2 separate regions of the Homo sapiens genome follow, and region 2 is linked to region 1. Evidence: fine-mapped expression QTL. Tissue or cell type: whole blood. Region 1 holds a variant in brackets; the other region holds the start of a gene. All regions are shown on one strand. Distances are between the middles of the regions.

What was found. PIP is the estimated chance that this variant, and not a neighbour inherited with it, causes the effect.
Region 2: it holds the start of PIAS1, and the variant in region 1 is fine-mapped to the expression of PIAS1 in whole blood (TOPMed, PIP 0.95).

What each region holds. Positions count from the first base shown.
Region 1 is chr15:68,186,126-68,194,456 of GRCh38, reverse strand. It overlaps PIAS1 (protein inhibitor of activated STAT 1), which reads right to left. Exons shown (of 14, transcript NM_016166.3): 14 at 610-6,915. The coding sequence ends at 6,622. It overlaps CALML4 (calmodulin like 4), which reads left to right. Exons shown (of 5, transcript NM_033429.3): 5 at 345-3,752. The coding sequence ends at 442. It overlaps LOC105370871 (a long non-coding RNA gene), which reads left to right and starts at 6,911. Exons shown (of 2, transcript XR_932396.3): 1 at 6,911-8,331. The variant C/A (reference allele first, on the strand shown) is at 3,829.
Region 2 is chr15:68,050,060-68,058,059 of GRCh38, reverse strand. It overlaps PIAS1 (protein inhibitor of activated STAT 1), which reads right to left and starts at 3,745. Exons shown (of 14, transcript NM_016166.3): 1 at 3,710-3,745. The coding sequence starts at 3,733. RefSeq lists a silencer at 3,447-3,946.

The DNA.
Region 1 (8,331 bases):
AGCTGAGATTGTGCCACTGCACTCCAGCCTGGGCAACAAGAGCGAAACTGTTTTAAAAAAAAAAAAAAAAAAGCACACGGTGGCATCAGTGACCGAATCCTTACCAGTACACCTCCCTACTCCCTGCCCCTGCAGAAAGCCCGATTAGCTCAAAATGGAATAAGGGTCTCAGGAGTGCAGGGATGGGTTGTCCCTTTCTGTTCACTGGTTTACTTCCTGGTCTACAGGAATAGTCAACTGCACGCTCAGGGAAGACCTTAGGGGAGCTCCAGTCCCCAAAAAACTCACTGTTTTATAATGGAACACTAAAGCCAAACTGAAAAATTAAATGTGATTTATTGCAGTGGATGATCTCTTCAGGGAAGCAGATATCGAACCCAATGGCAAAGTGAAGTATGATGAATTTATCCACAAGATCACCCTTCCTGGACGGGACTATTGAAGGAGGAGAATGGGAGAGCCTCCCCTGGGCCTGAAAACTTGGAGCAATTAATTTTTTTTAAAAAGTGTTCTTTTCACTTGGGAGAGATGGCAAACACAGTGGCAAGACAACATTACCCAACTATAGAAGAGAGGCTAACTAGCAACAATAATAGATGATTTCAGCCATGGTATGAGTAGATCTTTAATAAAAGATTTGTATTGATTTTATTAACTACCGTGAGTCCGGCCCTTTCAAGCATGGAAGGAGCCTGCGGTTTGGAGTCTGGCCTGGGTTCCAGTCCTGGCTCTGCTGCTTCCCACTGTGACTTTGGGCAAATCATTTCACTCCTCAAAGCCCCCCCACACAAGCTGGATTCCCACTTCTTACCTCATGGAGCCTGTTGAGGAAGGATTGAGCTGATGACTTAAGGGCAATCTACCAAGAGACTTATTCTGTATTTGGGGGCTAGAACCATCTTCCATATTTCCAAGATTTTCCAAGATGAAGCCAGTGCTAGCTGAGAAGCAGCAATGAACAGAAAGCTGTAACACTTATGACAACAATTCTTGCAGTGCCAGAGGCCCATTTACAAATTCTCATTTCCATCTCAACAGATATAGTGACATAGCTCAGGCTATTCATTCATAAACACAGAGTGTAGAGTGAAAACACTAGAGTGAAAACACATGCTACAATGAGGCAGCATCAGCTGAGAGCAGGAAGAGCGATCTACTTTACACCCCACACCAAAGGAAACCAGATGTGAGCTGCTAAATTGACTGGCCTTGCAGAGCTCAAGAAGGGGGCTTCCAATGCTGTGAGAATTCCGAGCTGTTCCCTGGGCTCTGTTAACAGGCAGAGAGGTTCCGGGATGGTCTGCTCAAGTGGCCCACACTGGTCATTGCCTTAAGCCACCTCCCCAGGACTTACGGAGAGAAATAAGGGGATGTAACCAGCAATGGCCAGGGTACAACAGCCCTGGAAAACAGTAGTAGGAGCACTAGGCTTTCTGGGAGTCCATCCAGCTGGAGTGGCTTTGAGTGAGTTACACAGCTAGAAGGTGCCAGGTTGGTGCTGCCAGAGATTCAGAGGTGCCATACACTTGTCAAATCTGGATCATTCGTAGTGCCAGCACAGTCCTAAAAGGGCTGGAGTACCACACCAACACAGGTAGGGGTGCAGGGCTTCAAGTACAAAGATTTGCATCCATGTATGTATCAAAAGTGGGTTCTCTGGGCTGTGGCTTTGTCTAGTAGTACCACAGTGGCTAAAGTAGAAGAAAACCAAATCAAATGGGATGTGTCTTTTGGGAGGATGTACAAGACACAAATCTTTCACTAGGCACCGGGCACAGGGAAAACTGCAGGGAACAAGAGTTGTAGTGTTAGTGCAACTGTCTCAACGATGCTGTGTGGCTTCAGACCCAAACAAGGCCCTGAGGAAGGAGACTCTCATTTCCCCAAGCATAACTGCAAGGAGAGGAGGAATTCCTAGGAGCCAAAGAGTTTTGTGGGGTGAGGGTAAATAAATGGCCCAAATGCCAACTAGGTGAAGTTGTGACCATCTGGCTGGGAAGCCCAGGTCCACACAGTGTAGGAGCAGATGTTTTGTGGGGTCTGAGGTTTACGAGATTTGGCTGCCTTAAGAATACAAAAACAGAAATGCAGAATTTCTGGGGCTGCTCCTAGGACCAGAACAAGTGAAGGGTCCTGGTGCTTAAACTTCATTACCTTCATGGTAAATCCACCAGAGGGCCGGTTAGATGCTGGCCCCGCCGAGAGAACTGCTGTCACTTTCAGGCAAAGCTCAAAGGTCCTAGGCCCACAGTTCTTTTGAGCTCCAGTCATGGACATTAGGAAGTAAATCCTGCACAGCCAACCTGGAATACCAAAGATTAGATGGGAGATAGATACCAATGATTTAGATGGCACAGGAAGAGCAAGTTCTGGATATAATAAATGAGGGTACTTTCCGTCAAAGCTTTTCTATGTCTATATTTATCACTGAATAGTCCCAGTATGGTTTTAAAGCAAGTTTTATGAATCTCATTTGCCTAACAGGAATCTGAAATATAACTTGCCAAAAACACACAGTTGGTGTGGAATGGTCATTAGAACCTGGGGCTCCTCTTCACGGACTCCCTGCTCATTAAGGGATTCAGTGGTCCAGAGTCTAAGATCCTATTAAGTGTTTGATTCAAACCTCTACCCGAGGAAGGGCTGTTACCTTACTCCTGGTCCTGGTTTCAAGCTCATTCCTGAAATTCCAGCTGGTTTCTCTAGCACCTAGTGTTGTTTACAAGAAGGCCACGGTGCTCTTAGCATTCAAACTGCAGATACTAAACAGATGCTGTGATTTATTAAAGAGTTAGCCATATTTCAACAAGAAAGGGAAATGATGGCTATATTCATTACTTACCTCAAAGCATGCTGCAAGAAAATTAGTTAGTTACTTGTCATGCTTTGAAATCTCTGGATGAAAGGTGCTTTGGAAGCACAAACCATTATCACTTGTCTCATAGGGATTGTCCCCTTGAACATCCAGCAGTGTTATTTTACAGAAGACAAATTAACTGAAGGCTTTTCTTTTATTACATCTAAAGAGCTCTACATAAACAGGTAACATTCAATAGGTAAACAATTTTTTTCCAATGCATGTAATAAATATTTTCACTTGGTACTTTTATACAAACTGACATTGTCTACTATACATTTTTAAAAGCCATTTTACTGGTTTGGCATGCGGTATGGAAATTCTAAGAGAGAAAGTTTTAAGGCAATGAATCACAGATTTAAGTTCATGGAATTTATGGTAACTTTATCTGTTTATGTACATTTTCCCCTTTGTTAAACAATTAACAGCAGCACACTCTGGGACCACCAGCTATTTTCCCTCTCTTTCTGAAATCTAAGCTTTGTATTTAATTAAAAAACAGAATTCAACATCTATTGATAAAACAAAATTCTTACTAAAATAATTTCAAATGTGCTTTAAAAAGTCCTGAAGATCTTGAAAGTTTTATGTGTTTAAAATTGAAATTGTCTAAAAAAATGCTCTTTCCACATTAATTTAGTTAGGATATATTTTCACTCCATTTCAGACACTTGACTCAAAGGAAAATCTGCCAAAGAATCCGATTTTTCAGAGCTTACGTGAATCTTTCCTCAGTAAAGATACAGAATTGTGATCATGTCTAAATAATTAGTAAAGCAATTTTAATGCTCAAAATAGTCAACCAAGTATGGCATGGTTCTGGTTCAGATTTTTTTTTTTTAAGATGTATCCAATAACACTCACGAAGTAATTAAAAGCCACTTTAACCCTGCTAGTCAAATAGCTATTTTATCAAAGATGTGTGCATACAGATGTATATATATATACACACACACACACACAGTACTGTA[C/A]AGAAACAAACATATGCATACCTACTATGAACGGCCAAGGCAAGGGGGATGATGGCAACTTGACTAGATTCTGAGAACTGCTATTTGTCCACAGATAGCATGTCAATGTTGGGATGGGTTGGGGAGTGAGCGTAGGCTAAGAAAAAAAGAGATGAAGTGACTATGTGCTTTTCTTTAAACTTAGTAGTTACAGACATAGTACAGGACTCTACTAATAATTAGTAGAGATCATGAAAGTCTGATTGATATTGACCATGAGACCAACAGAGTGACAACTATTACTTAATGCAACATTTTGGAAAGTCAACAACTGATGGAAACAAACTCCTCACAGGGTAGAACGAACTAAAATTAAGACAACTGAATGGTTAGTTTCTCCTGTGGACACATGACCAAAACCACTGAAACCACCGTATGTTTATTTCTCCCTATTACCTGTTCTTCTCTTAGGTTGGTATAATGTGGGACACTGAGGGAAATTAACCTTTTCTACAACTGAAGAAAGTAGAGGGATACGTTTTCAACTGGATCATTCAAACGGTTTGTAATTCAGCATCATACACAAAGTTACTGATCAGAATTCTGAGACCACTAACAATGACACATAAAAAAACAGGAAGAAAACTATTCATTTTACCTAAGACAGCTGAATTAGTAAAAATGTTTCCTAAAGCAATGTAAAAATCAGAAAAAACTCCCCACAATTTTAGTAATTTCTACCCCAACAGAAATTTAGACACAAATTATGGTAGTATTAGAAATTAGCCTAAATTAATACGACATTTGCTCACTATAATGCCAGATTCATTAAAAAACATTAACTGTTTCCTGGTTAACTGACAATCTGTTTTGGTTTTTTTTTTATTGCAAATTGTTTTATGACTATAACTCAGCCATTTGTGTGTGGAATACACATGCGTAGGGGAAGACTATGAAACTCACTTGTTACTCAAACACACTTGTTTATAAATACATATATACACACACACATATACATATCAACACCAACTTTTTTTTTTCCCAAAATTCAAGTCAACAATTTAGTGGCAGAGAGATGCTATAAAAACATTATTTTTAGATGCCACACAAGTCATGAGAACCATTAATTTTATCATACAACTGAAGTACAGCCATCTTGAATTCTACCTGGATTAAAGTTGATCATTTTGTTACCAATGCAAGGTTTAAAACTACAAGTGTATACACAAAGGTGGTCCTCATCAACTCTGAGAACATTAATAGTTGCGGTAGGAAAATCCAGTCTGGAAAACCAGCAGTCATTATGCCCCTTATCTCTTCTGTTAAACCTGCATTCTCAATCAACTAAAAAATATTTTCCACACCTGAGAACATCATACCTTCTCTGATGAGGATTTTGGAACATTAGTAGAACCACTTTTCCTTCCCTCCAACTCATATTTCTCTCCTGAAAAACAGTTTTCAGTATATTTACATGTTCCATTATGAATAAGAGTAGATCAGACTGATCCATGAATTCTAAAAAAAAATGACTTTCCTATGTCATACTTGTTAAAAGGTGAAGAAAAAGATAAACAAGGCAGATACGCTAAGAAAATAGGTATACTCAGAACCAAAGAGTAAAAATGACTAAGGGTCAAACACATCTTGAATTTCAACTGTTTATCAAATAGTAGACTTCTACAAAAATGTGGTGCATTGTACTTTCCAAACAATTTATTTTTAGGATAACTGACCGTGTATCTTTCTTTTTTAGGTGATGTAACATTACCTCTGTCAGCTGCACAAAACACCTGACAGAGCTTTCTAAGCTATTTTTACTTCCTACTTTGGTATGAAGATCTTACATGAAAACTTGTTACTCTGTGGCCAAAAAAAGCAGGTATTCACAGACTTGGTTTAAATACACAATACTGGCAATCCAGATTTAGAATAAAGAACTAGACTAAAGTGTATTATTCATAGGTCGGCTAAGCCTACTCCTTACCCAGACAGCTTTATTCCAATATCTCTAAAACATATTCTCAGGGGGTACAGAGCAAATAAGAGAATATGTGATGGAGAACATGCAATTGGGATAGTTGATAAAGATGCTCACACGTGAGTTCAAGACCTTCAAAGCACTTTGAAAGAAGCAAGCAACTGATTATATTAACTGAATGCACACTCGGGAGGAGAGGGAACAGTGATGACAGAAAAATACATACAGACGCACACAATGAACACACACACCCACGAGCCATGTCCTGAAAATACACAGGGAATGCAGCGGGACAGATGAGCTTTATAACTTAAGGCTGGATAAAATATGCACACACAAACAGAATCCAAGTCTGTCGTTTTCAGAAAATGGAAATCAAACTATCCCCCGACCCCCTCCCCACAACAAAGAAAAGCCCACGATTGAAAACTTCATACATGCAATTCCTTTTCTGTTATTGCAAATAAAATAATGCCATCGAAGTCAAATAAAACCAAAACCATAGGACAAATAATGAAAAATCTTCAGAATCCAGAAAAAAATGAACTGAAGGTGGTTTGTGGGTGCTTGTTTTTCTTTTTTCTTTTCTTTCCTTTTTTTTTTTAAACAAGTGTTTTATCACACAGGCAGTCTTAGATTTATATACAAAAGTAAAACTGAAAATATAGTTTTGTTCTCTGTACATTTCTTTTAATTTTTTCCCTAAAAAAAGGAAAAAAAACACGCTTGTATACTTTTCTAAACAGAGTAAGGTAAAACAGAGCACAAAGTTCTCTTCTTTCTGCCAAGTTCATTCGATCTGGGGTGGGGATGGGAGCAGCAGGGCCTGGGAATCAGTCCAATGAAATAATGTCTGGTATGATGCCAAAGATGGATGCCGTGTCCGTGCTGCTCCTGTTTGTGACGGTGTGGCTATGGCTTTCCCTTAGGCTGTTGGAAGAAACCAGGCTGCTGTTACTGCCACTACTGCTTCCATTGGTGGTTGGCAGAGAAGTACTGCCTCCTGCACTTAACTGATCAAGAAACATCTGTGAGGAGGTATACGGGAAAAACCGAGACGAGTGTAGGAGGTCTTGATCATCTGAAACTGCTGCTGCTGCAGCGGCAAGCAAGGAGGTGTTGTAATGCTAGGGAGGGGAAACAAAAGACACAAAAATGTTAATTATACTTCCAAATTAATATATTTTCTCCTCAGCGGGACACAGCCCTAAATTTAAGATAGCCTGAGTATCTAGGGTTTCTGAAATATTTACTAAGACATTTTGCAAAATCAAATGGCCTTATGTAAGGACTGGAGCATTGATCTTGAGAAGACATTTTTGTATCTGAAACTGGAGGAAAAACAAAATATAAATTTTATTGTTTTTTGTTTTAGTTTGTATTGCAAGCAATTACCAATTCTATTTCCCAAGAAGCATATGCTCAGAAGCAGCAGGAGGGGCAGACAGTCCATGCTCTTGCTAGTAAGGAGATACTTAGCCAAGAAATCTATCAGTCAATATGACTCACTGCCCTGTTTCTTTATAAAACAGTACTGGAAACCAACAGACACTGTTCTTATTATACACTCAGGCACCACTGAAAGTTAGAATTTTTATTTAAATTTTAAAGCCATAATGATAATGGGTATGATTACTCTAAGTTTTCCAAGGAAATTTATCTTTCTCTTGGCTACACATTATACTTTTAAATACAGTCATGCGTCGCTTAATGACACGGATGTGTTTTGAGAAATGCATCATTAGGCGGTTTTGTGGCTGTGCAAACATCACAGTGTGCTTGCACAAACCTAGACAGTAGAGCCTGCTACACACCTAGGCTGTGTGGTCTGGCCTACTGCTCCCAGGCTACAAACCTGTACAGCATGTTACTGTGCTGAATGCCGTAGGCAACTGTAACACAATGCTAAGTATGTGTATATCTCAACATAGAAAAGGTACAGTAAAAATATGGTATAAAAGATAAAAAAATGATACACCTGTATAGGGCACTTACCATGAATGGAGCCTGCAGTACTGGAAGTTGCTCTGGGTGAGCCAGTGAGTGAATGGTGAGTGAATGTGAGGCTTAGGACATTATTGTACACTACTGTAGACTTTATAAACACTGTACACTATGGCCACACTAAATGTGTTAAAAATATTTTTCTTTCTTCAATAATAAATTAACATTAGCTAACTAATTTTACTTTATAAACTGATTTTTTAAAACTTTGACTCTTGTAACACTTAATTTAAAACACAAGTACATTGTACAGCTGAACAAAAATATTTCCTTCTTTATATCCTTATTCTGTAAGTCTCTATTTTTAACATTTTAAAATATTTTTTACTTTTTAACTTTTTTGTTAAAAATGACACACACAACACATTAGCCTAGGCCTACACAGGGAGGTCAGGGTCATCGATGTCACTGTCTTCCATCTGCACAGCTTGTCCCACTGCATGGTCTTCAGGGAAAATAGCATGCATGGAGCTGTCATTTGCTATGACAACAATCTTCTGGAACACCCACTGAAGGACCTGCCTGAGGCTCTTCTTAAG
Region 2 (8,000 bases), 140 kb after region 1:
AACTCAAAAGCCTCAGCAAGAACCCTGGAGCAGCATGCTGATGGAGTTCACCAGGAGACACCCAAGGTTAATCAGCTATGGACTCGCCACTAAGCACTACCGCAATCAACAGGGATTACAAGAAACTCTTTGAAGAAAAAGACAATGGGATCGCCCAGGAGAAAACGGTGGATGAAAAGAAGGAGGTATTTCAAAACAATCATATGAAATACTTAGAAACTATACGTAGTATTTTATAAACTATACTGTAGAGTTTTTAAAATACTGTTGATAAAAATAATGACATAAAACAAAAGCCATCTAAATGTGGCACTTGACAAAAGCAAGTTATAGAGATTCAAATCAAATCCATGAATAAACTATCAGATGTACTTGACTCTATCTGAAATAAAAGCAGACAAATTACAGCGTAAGGATCAAAATTAAGTAGCTATTTCTTGAAAATAAAGAGGCAGAAAATAACAATAGAATTCACTGACACACTCATAGTAACTTTTATAATTATGGTTTCTCTTCCCATTTAATTTCATTATTTACTCCACTAAAATGCTGATGGACTTCTTCTCTCCCACTCTTCTTCCTGTAAATTAAAATGGCACTATAACTTGGTTTGAGTTTTACTCCAAAAAAACACATATTTTTTTTTAAATTACTTTAAGAGGAGTTTCATGAAGCTGTCAGCTTATTAACTACCAAGATCATCTGGCCATCACACCCTCCTGCTTCTAAGTTCCTAAAGATGACAAAATACCCTCCACATTCTTAAAAATGACATTTATGGGTACTCCCCTAATGAAAAATTAAACCTTTCATAAACAAATGTGCATAGAGAATTCATTTTGATATGTATGACTCACAATCTAATTTTTATTGGCAATATCTTGAAGTGTTGCAGCTTGCACAATTCCTACAGGGGATAAAGATCTATCTGTTTTTCCCATCTGATCTTTGCACATTTCTTATAGATTTAAAAGGACTCACTAAAAAAGCCATGAGGAAAATAATTATGAATACAATCCACAGCAAAATGAAGTATGGGGCTGAAACCTAAAATAATGAAAAGTCACTGAGTTTTATGTAAAGCTTCACAGTTGAAGTACTCTATTCCCATTTAAAATTTCAAAAAATCTAGATTTTTTTCTTCTTACTCTGATTTTTCCTATCATATTAGGAATGTATGATATTTACCTCCAAAAAATCACAAACAAAAAGCCTTCAGAAAATATCATTTCCAAAAGGAGTATCTGCCAAACCTTACTGCACAGAAAATTATATATACACATTCTCTTTTTTTTAACACATTCTCAAATAACTATGGTAGGCGTTCCTGAGATCACCTCCTCCACCCCTCAAAAAAAGAACAGCAAATCTAACCACAATAAAGTATTAACCAAATTTTTTTAACGCCGCTATCACCAGCTAAGCAATTTATCACACAGCTCCTCAAAGTCTCAGACACACACAATGACATACCAACATGTCAAAACAGTTATTATAATTTGAAAAATTATACAACAGGAACATAAGAGTAGAAAAAAAAAACTTCCTCTGGAAAAACTCTAGTAGATTTGGGAGAGCACAAAAAACGAGATTAATTTTAGAAAAATAACATTTCTTCAAGTGTTTGGTGTTTATCTGATACTGGTTCATTTTCGTAAAGAGAAACTTTACCTAACAAGACTCACACCAGGGATCTGATCTATCCCCAAAGGCACTTTCTTAAAATGAGAAAGAACAAAGAAGGAAATCTCTCAGCATGTGCTTTCCATACTAGTTTCTTTGGACAGCATCAAGAGTGACAATATAGTCTGCACATGCTTTTCAGCTTTATTCTATGGTCCATGTATAACAACTGATTAGCTATCATTCAAAAGAACTCCTAACAAAATAAATATTACAAGGCAAAGATCACAGCAACATAGTGACTCTAAGAGAAAAATTATAGAAAACATGTCTTAAAGTTGTGTGCTTTTTTTTATTTCAAGGGTTAATTATCTCCAAATATTCAAATTCCTAAGGCTTTCTCATTTCAGTCAATAGTTTGAAACTGGGGAAAAATCAAAACCATCCATTGTAAATCTGCTCTCCCTTCAGTAAATTTGTAATTAGAAGTACATTTTAAAAGAATGACACTCAAAGCCAATACCTTAACATACGAATCTTGGAGTGTAAACATTGTGAAGTTATTAGGAGAAAAGCTCTTTCGGTGAGGATATTCCACAGGAAAAACTCTACAGAATCAAATCTGGCATTTGGTTGTTCTAGAAGTTGTCGTTTCATTATAACGGGGAAAAAATTAAATAATTTTTATTTATTATAAAAAGAAGACTCTCCCCAAAGATTTACAATTGTATATCCCCATCTCCTCTCTGACAGAGATGTCAGTTCTCTGGGTCGAGACATAACCAGCTGCTGGGTTCACACACACAGGAAGCCACAGAGAAGATCGCGTTCAGAGCCTCGAAATAATACGCGTTAGTTAAGAACTGCCTGCTACTAAACCAAAATTATTCAAGCGGAGCCCCATTTGTCACAATCCAGTCATAAGGGTTCCACCACCCCCTCCCCCAACTGCTTGTGTAGTGGTATATCTGCTACGGTAAAGAAGCCATCATCAGGTAAAGATTGGGGTGGGAGAAAAGCGGGGAAAAGGGGGCACCCTTTCATCTAATTTCGTGAGGCGTGAGTAATTGGTACTGTTAAGAGGAACGTTCTATTTATCGGGGGTTGGAGTAGCATGAGGGGAGAATTTCGTTCAAATCAACATGGCCAGCAAGATGTCCCTACAAACAAAAGGCAATGGGGGGATATAAACACGAACCATTCACCTCCATCAGCTACAGCATCGCCATCATGGTGTGTGCAGAGACCCCCAAAGGCTCCTCTCACCCTCCACACCAGCTAAGGCAAAAGAAGGGAGAGAGGTAGCTGCATCCCCCCCTCCCAACACTGCTTCCAAAGACACACTCTTCGAGGGGGTTTCTCCCCTCGGCTGCCCGGAATCAGAGAGAAAGAGTAACGTCCCGCTCACTACCTCTCAGCCGAACCCCAACGCCGGCCCGGGGCTCGCTAAACTTTACCAGAGCTTCTCCCCCAGATCCCCACCCTATCGCCCCGGGATCGCGCTTCCCACAAGCGGGGCACCCCAGGCGCTTCCTGACAAGCGAGCAGCCGGGGAAAGCCGAGTCCGGGGCGGGGGCTACTGGGATCCACGGAGGGGCGGGGCGGCCGAAGCCAAGTTCCCGGGGGTCTGAGAAGAGCGCCTGACAGGAGCCCGGGACTGCAAAGGAGGAAGAGGAAGCGGCCACGGGGAGCTTTCCCAATCCCCCCTACGAGAGCACCCTGCCCCCAGCCCCAGCTCCCCATGGGGGGCAGGGAGGCTAACTGGAAGGTGAAAAAGCCGAGCCCATGAGACAGCTGCAGCCCCTACCTCCGGACTCCCTATCTCTTCCCCCGCCACCCCCGCCAGAGGCGCCCACAACAATAACACGCCGGGGACGACCCGTCAGCGCCCCCGAGGCACCCGGGGCCCGCGGCCCGCCGCAGGCGGGCCCCCTCTGCTGAGACCGGGCGCGCCTCTCTCCCTACAACTCCAGGCCCGGGTGGAGTCAGGCCCGAGAGGCCCCCCAGGGTCGGACCCATCCCCCCTGGCAGCAGCGGCGCCGTCTCCGCGGCCGAATATTAGAAGTGAATTCGAGCTGCGCTTTACCTTTAGTTCCGCACTGTCCGCCATCTTGCGTCTGTCAGCGCAAGCGCAGTGAACTTCGCCGGGGGCCGCCGCTAGACCCGCCCCTCTAGCCGGCCTGGCCCCGCCCCGGCCCGCCCCTCCACCTTCCCAGCCCGCCTCTAGCCTCCGCCCCGCTCAGGGCGCTCGAAGCCCCGCCCCGGGCACGTACAGCTGCGAGACAGGCACGTTCCATTTAAATAATGGCGCCAAGCGGCGAGGTTTGACAGTTACTGCCCCCTCGGTCTCCCTGCCCCCCATCCTAGCTCGGCCAGCTCCTCCCGGGAAGGGCCGGAGCGAGAGGGATGCTGGCCTGAGCCCCATCTCTCTGCGGTCCGCGGAACGCTTCTGCATAGCTTCGACGCCTACGGTCACAGAAACAATGCTGTCCCCCAACCCCCAATAAGCAAGGCTTTTTCAGCACCTGCTACCTGCGAGGCTACCAGTGGGCTAAAAATAGAAATCCATTACATTTAAGGGGCCCTTAATGAAGCATTTCTATCATTATTGGCTCAGATCCTCTTGATAACGAGGGGAGGTAGGCAAGGAAGAGATAATTCCCATGGTATAGATTCAGAAATGAAAGCTCAGAGAGGAAAAGTGACTTGCACAAACAAGTATTTTAACGAGGTGGCGTAAGACAAAATTTTGAAGGTGTTCATTAACATTTTTGTTTAAAAAAGTATTTATTTAGTGACCATCTGCTTGCCTTGTGCTAACGGCTAAATATACATTTTGAAATCAAAGTCCGTGCCCTTCTGTAGTTCTCTAATGGGGAATCAGAGAAGTGAACGAACAAAGATACAATTGCAAATGTTAGTGAGTACCAGAAAGGAGCAAAAGGTCATTGAGAGAGAGAAAGGGTTTGGGAGATGTACTTAATTCTGGGAGGGTTTTATCCACTAAATTGACATTTAAGTAGACTTGATGGAAGGATTATTTCATTCCTTTTCGTCTCTACTGAAAGCCTTCTATATACCTCCTCCCCAACCCCCACTTTTACTAATCAACTTTGCCTCATAACTCATGGAAAAAATGAAAGATATCAGAAATAAACTCCCTTATCTTCTCACCATCAAAACCACCCTTATCTGCATAGTAACATTTGGGTTGCTATGAATGAAGTGTCCCTGCGCCTAGGAAGGCCAGTCCCTTTACCAGTGACCGGATTTTTTTCACGCACATTCCTAAGGATTTTACTCTTACAATTACCTACCCTCCAGCATCGTTAGTTTTTTCCCTCTCAATTGAATTGCTCCTATCAGCATATAAATATATTGAAATTTCTCCCATCTAAAATAAACTTCCTTTGACTCCAAAATCGCCTCTAGGAACTGCCCTATTTTTCTGCTATCTTCATAAATTCTTAGAAAGGTTTTTCAAGATCTCTCCAATAGTGCTTGTTCCTACCTCTCACTTCACATTCACTTCTCAGTCTACCCTGATCGAGCTTTGGCTTCCATCATCTGTATCACTTATCAAGATTACTAATGATCTTGTTTCCAAAGGCAATTGCCAATTCTCTATCCATATCTCAATTGACCTCTCTGTAGAATCGCGAATAATTGACATGGTTCCTTTGATTTGAAACACTTTTCCCCCTGAACTTACCTACACGTCACAGATAGTCCTGTTCCCTCACTGGGCCTCCTTTTTGATATGCTGGTTTCTCCTCTTTGGCTCAATCTTTAAATGTTGGACTGCTCCAGGGCTCGGTCCTTGCATTCTTCTCTATTTTATCACCAGGTGATCTCATCTAACTGGTTGACTTGAAGTCTATATGCTCATGACTTTGAAAATGCTCTCTAGCCTAAACCTCTCCATTGTCAAGAAACAAAAGTAAAACAAATTGAGATTCAAGATCTCATTGGCATTATTGCACTCCTAGAATTGGACAAAACTTCATTCCACAAAATAGAATAAATGTTGCAATGAATCAAGCAGAGGATGTTAACTTTAGAGACAGAAAATAGACTGAAGAAGGCAGAAACAACAAAAAGCAGATTGGTTATATCAAAGTCACTTTTCTTTAAGGTGGAGACGTGGAGACAGAACAGTAGAAAGAAAACTGATTGGTTAACATTGGGTTACTTCAGGTATTCTATTTTAAGGATTAAAACAGGAAATTTCATTATCATGCCTGTTAAAGATTGAAACTTCTGTTTGGAAAATTGGCTATCTCTCTTACCATTTTTTGGAAAACCAGATAACTCAGTTTTGTTTTGGTGAACATGGGTGACACCATTTTGATTTTTAGTCTGATCTGGAGGCCTGATGCAGGAATTTGGTTGAAAACAATGGCATCCCATGATTTTTATTTAACAACCTAGGTGAAATTGTGACTAAGACTGAGGGCATTAGCACTACCCTCATTTAACATCATTCTGTGTTTCCAGTCTCAACACATCATTTATAGATTACAGTGTCCTCATGATTTTGTATTTCTGTCATTGCAGCTGAAGAGAGACCATATGACATTCAACAATTGGCTGTATGCAAATATGTAAAACTTTTTGAGAGAACATAATTGAGAATTGTGACTATCAGGAGGACAATGCCAAGAGTTCGGAGTATGCTTCTTAGCTAGGGTTGCCATAAACCAAACCAACTAAAATCAAATAGATCAAAGAATGAGCCAGATGAGAAATCTACCTGTTTTCACCAAGTAGCCTGCTAACTTTTTGAAACTGAGTCTCTACAATACCAGATTATTTATGTACAACAAGAAGTGACAGCAACAGCACAGATTTCCCCGTTTGGTTAGTACGCAGCAATTCTATCATCTAGCATCTCAGAAATGGGTTAAATTAAAGCAAAGAGTGCTAACTCTACAAAAGAGGCCACTAGTAAAATTTGAACAAACAGTTGCATTAGGGATGTTGCTAAAGTTACCCACTAGGTGGAATAAAAGCTCTCTTGGGTCCTGTAAATGTTTGGGTTTGACCCTTTATCAACTTACCCACAAAAACTACTAATTGTGAAATTTTAACTACAGCATTATCCTGCCAAGTGGAAGAGGTGGGCATAAGCAAGAAAAAATTAAGAAGGGAAGGAGTCTTATCATGGTAGCGAGTCTTATTCTGACAGTCTTGGAAAACGCTGTCCACAACATGATGTCAGCAATTTCTCATCCTGGTTTGCAGTTTAAATGTCTCTGGCTGTGGCATCAGGTGTTCTGCTAAACTCTCTATGTGGCTCCCTCATCAAGCATGGGACTTGTCCCTTGAAATTTATATCGAGTTGTTCAGCTTAGCAGTTTTTGTTCATGGTTGGAGAATTGCAGTCAGATATTGAAGGCAACAAGAACTCAGGATCCAGGCTAGTCTATAGATAGATGATAAAAACTCAAAAACAATGAACAAAGCTGCAATCTAGTAACAGGTGTACTATGGTTTTCTTCAGAAACATAATTTTTCTCTCTACAGTCATTCCCATTTCTACCAAAGATAATCATGGTAAGACCAATTTATTTTTAAAATTAATTTAGTTTCAAACTTGACCTGATTATTTACATAAGTGCGGCAAGAATAACCACATAGGCTTCTTTTAAATTTATTTTGCTGGAAATTGTGACAACAAATCTGGACTTTTAAAAACCTCTTGATGTTAGGAAGTCAAACCAAGGCAGACATCAGACTTTGCCTGCAATATCTAATATCTTGAGGCTTCTGGGCCTGCCTGGAAGTGACTACTTTTATTCACTATAAAGCTGAGAACACTTGAAAATTGGCATTCTATGATTCCATGCACATTTTAAAATATGACATTGCTATATATATATATATTCATATATATATTCATATATATGAATATATATATGAATATATATATTCATATATATGTATATATATGAATATATATGTATATATATATGAATATATATATATACGTATATATATATATGATATGGTTTGGGTCTGTGTCCCCAACCAAATGTCACCTTGAATTGTAATAATCCCCAAGTGTCAAGGGCAGGACTAGGTGGATATAATTGAATCGGCATCAATTCAATTGATAATGAATGAATGAAGGAACAGCACTGGCAGTGGGGTGGGAGGGAATTCCGCCATGCTGTGCTTGTAATAGTGAGTTCTCACGAGATCTGATGGTTTTATAAGGGGCTTCCCCCTTTGCTCGGCAACCATTCTCTCTCCTGCCACCCCGTGAAGAGGTACCTTCCACCATGATTGTAAGTTTCCTGAGGCATTCCCAGTCATGTGGAACTGTGAGTCAATTAAACCTCTTTTCTTTATAAATTACCCAGTCTCAGGTATGT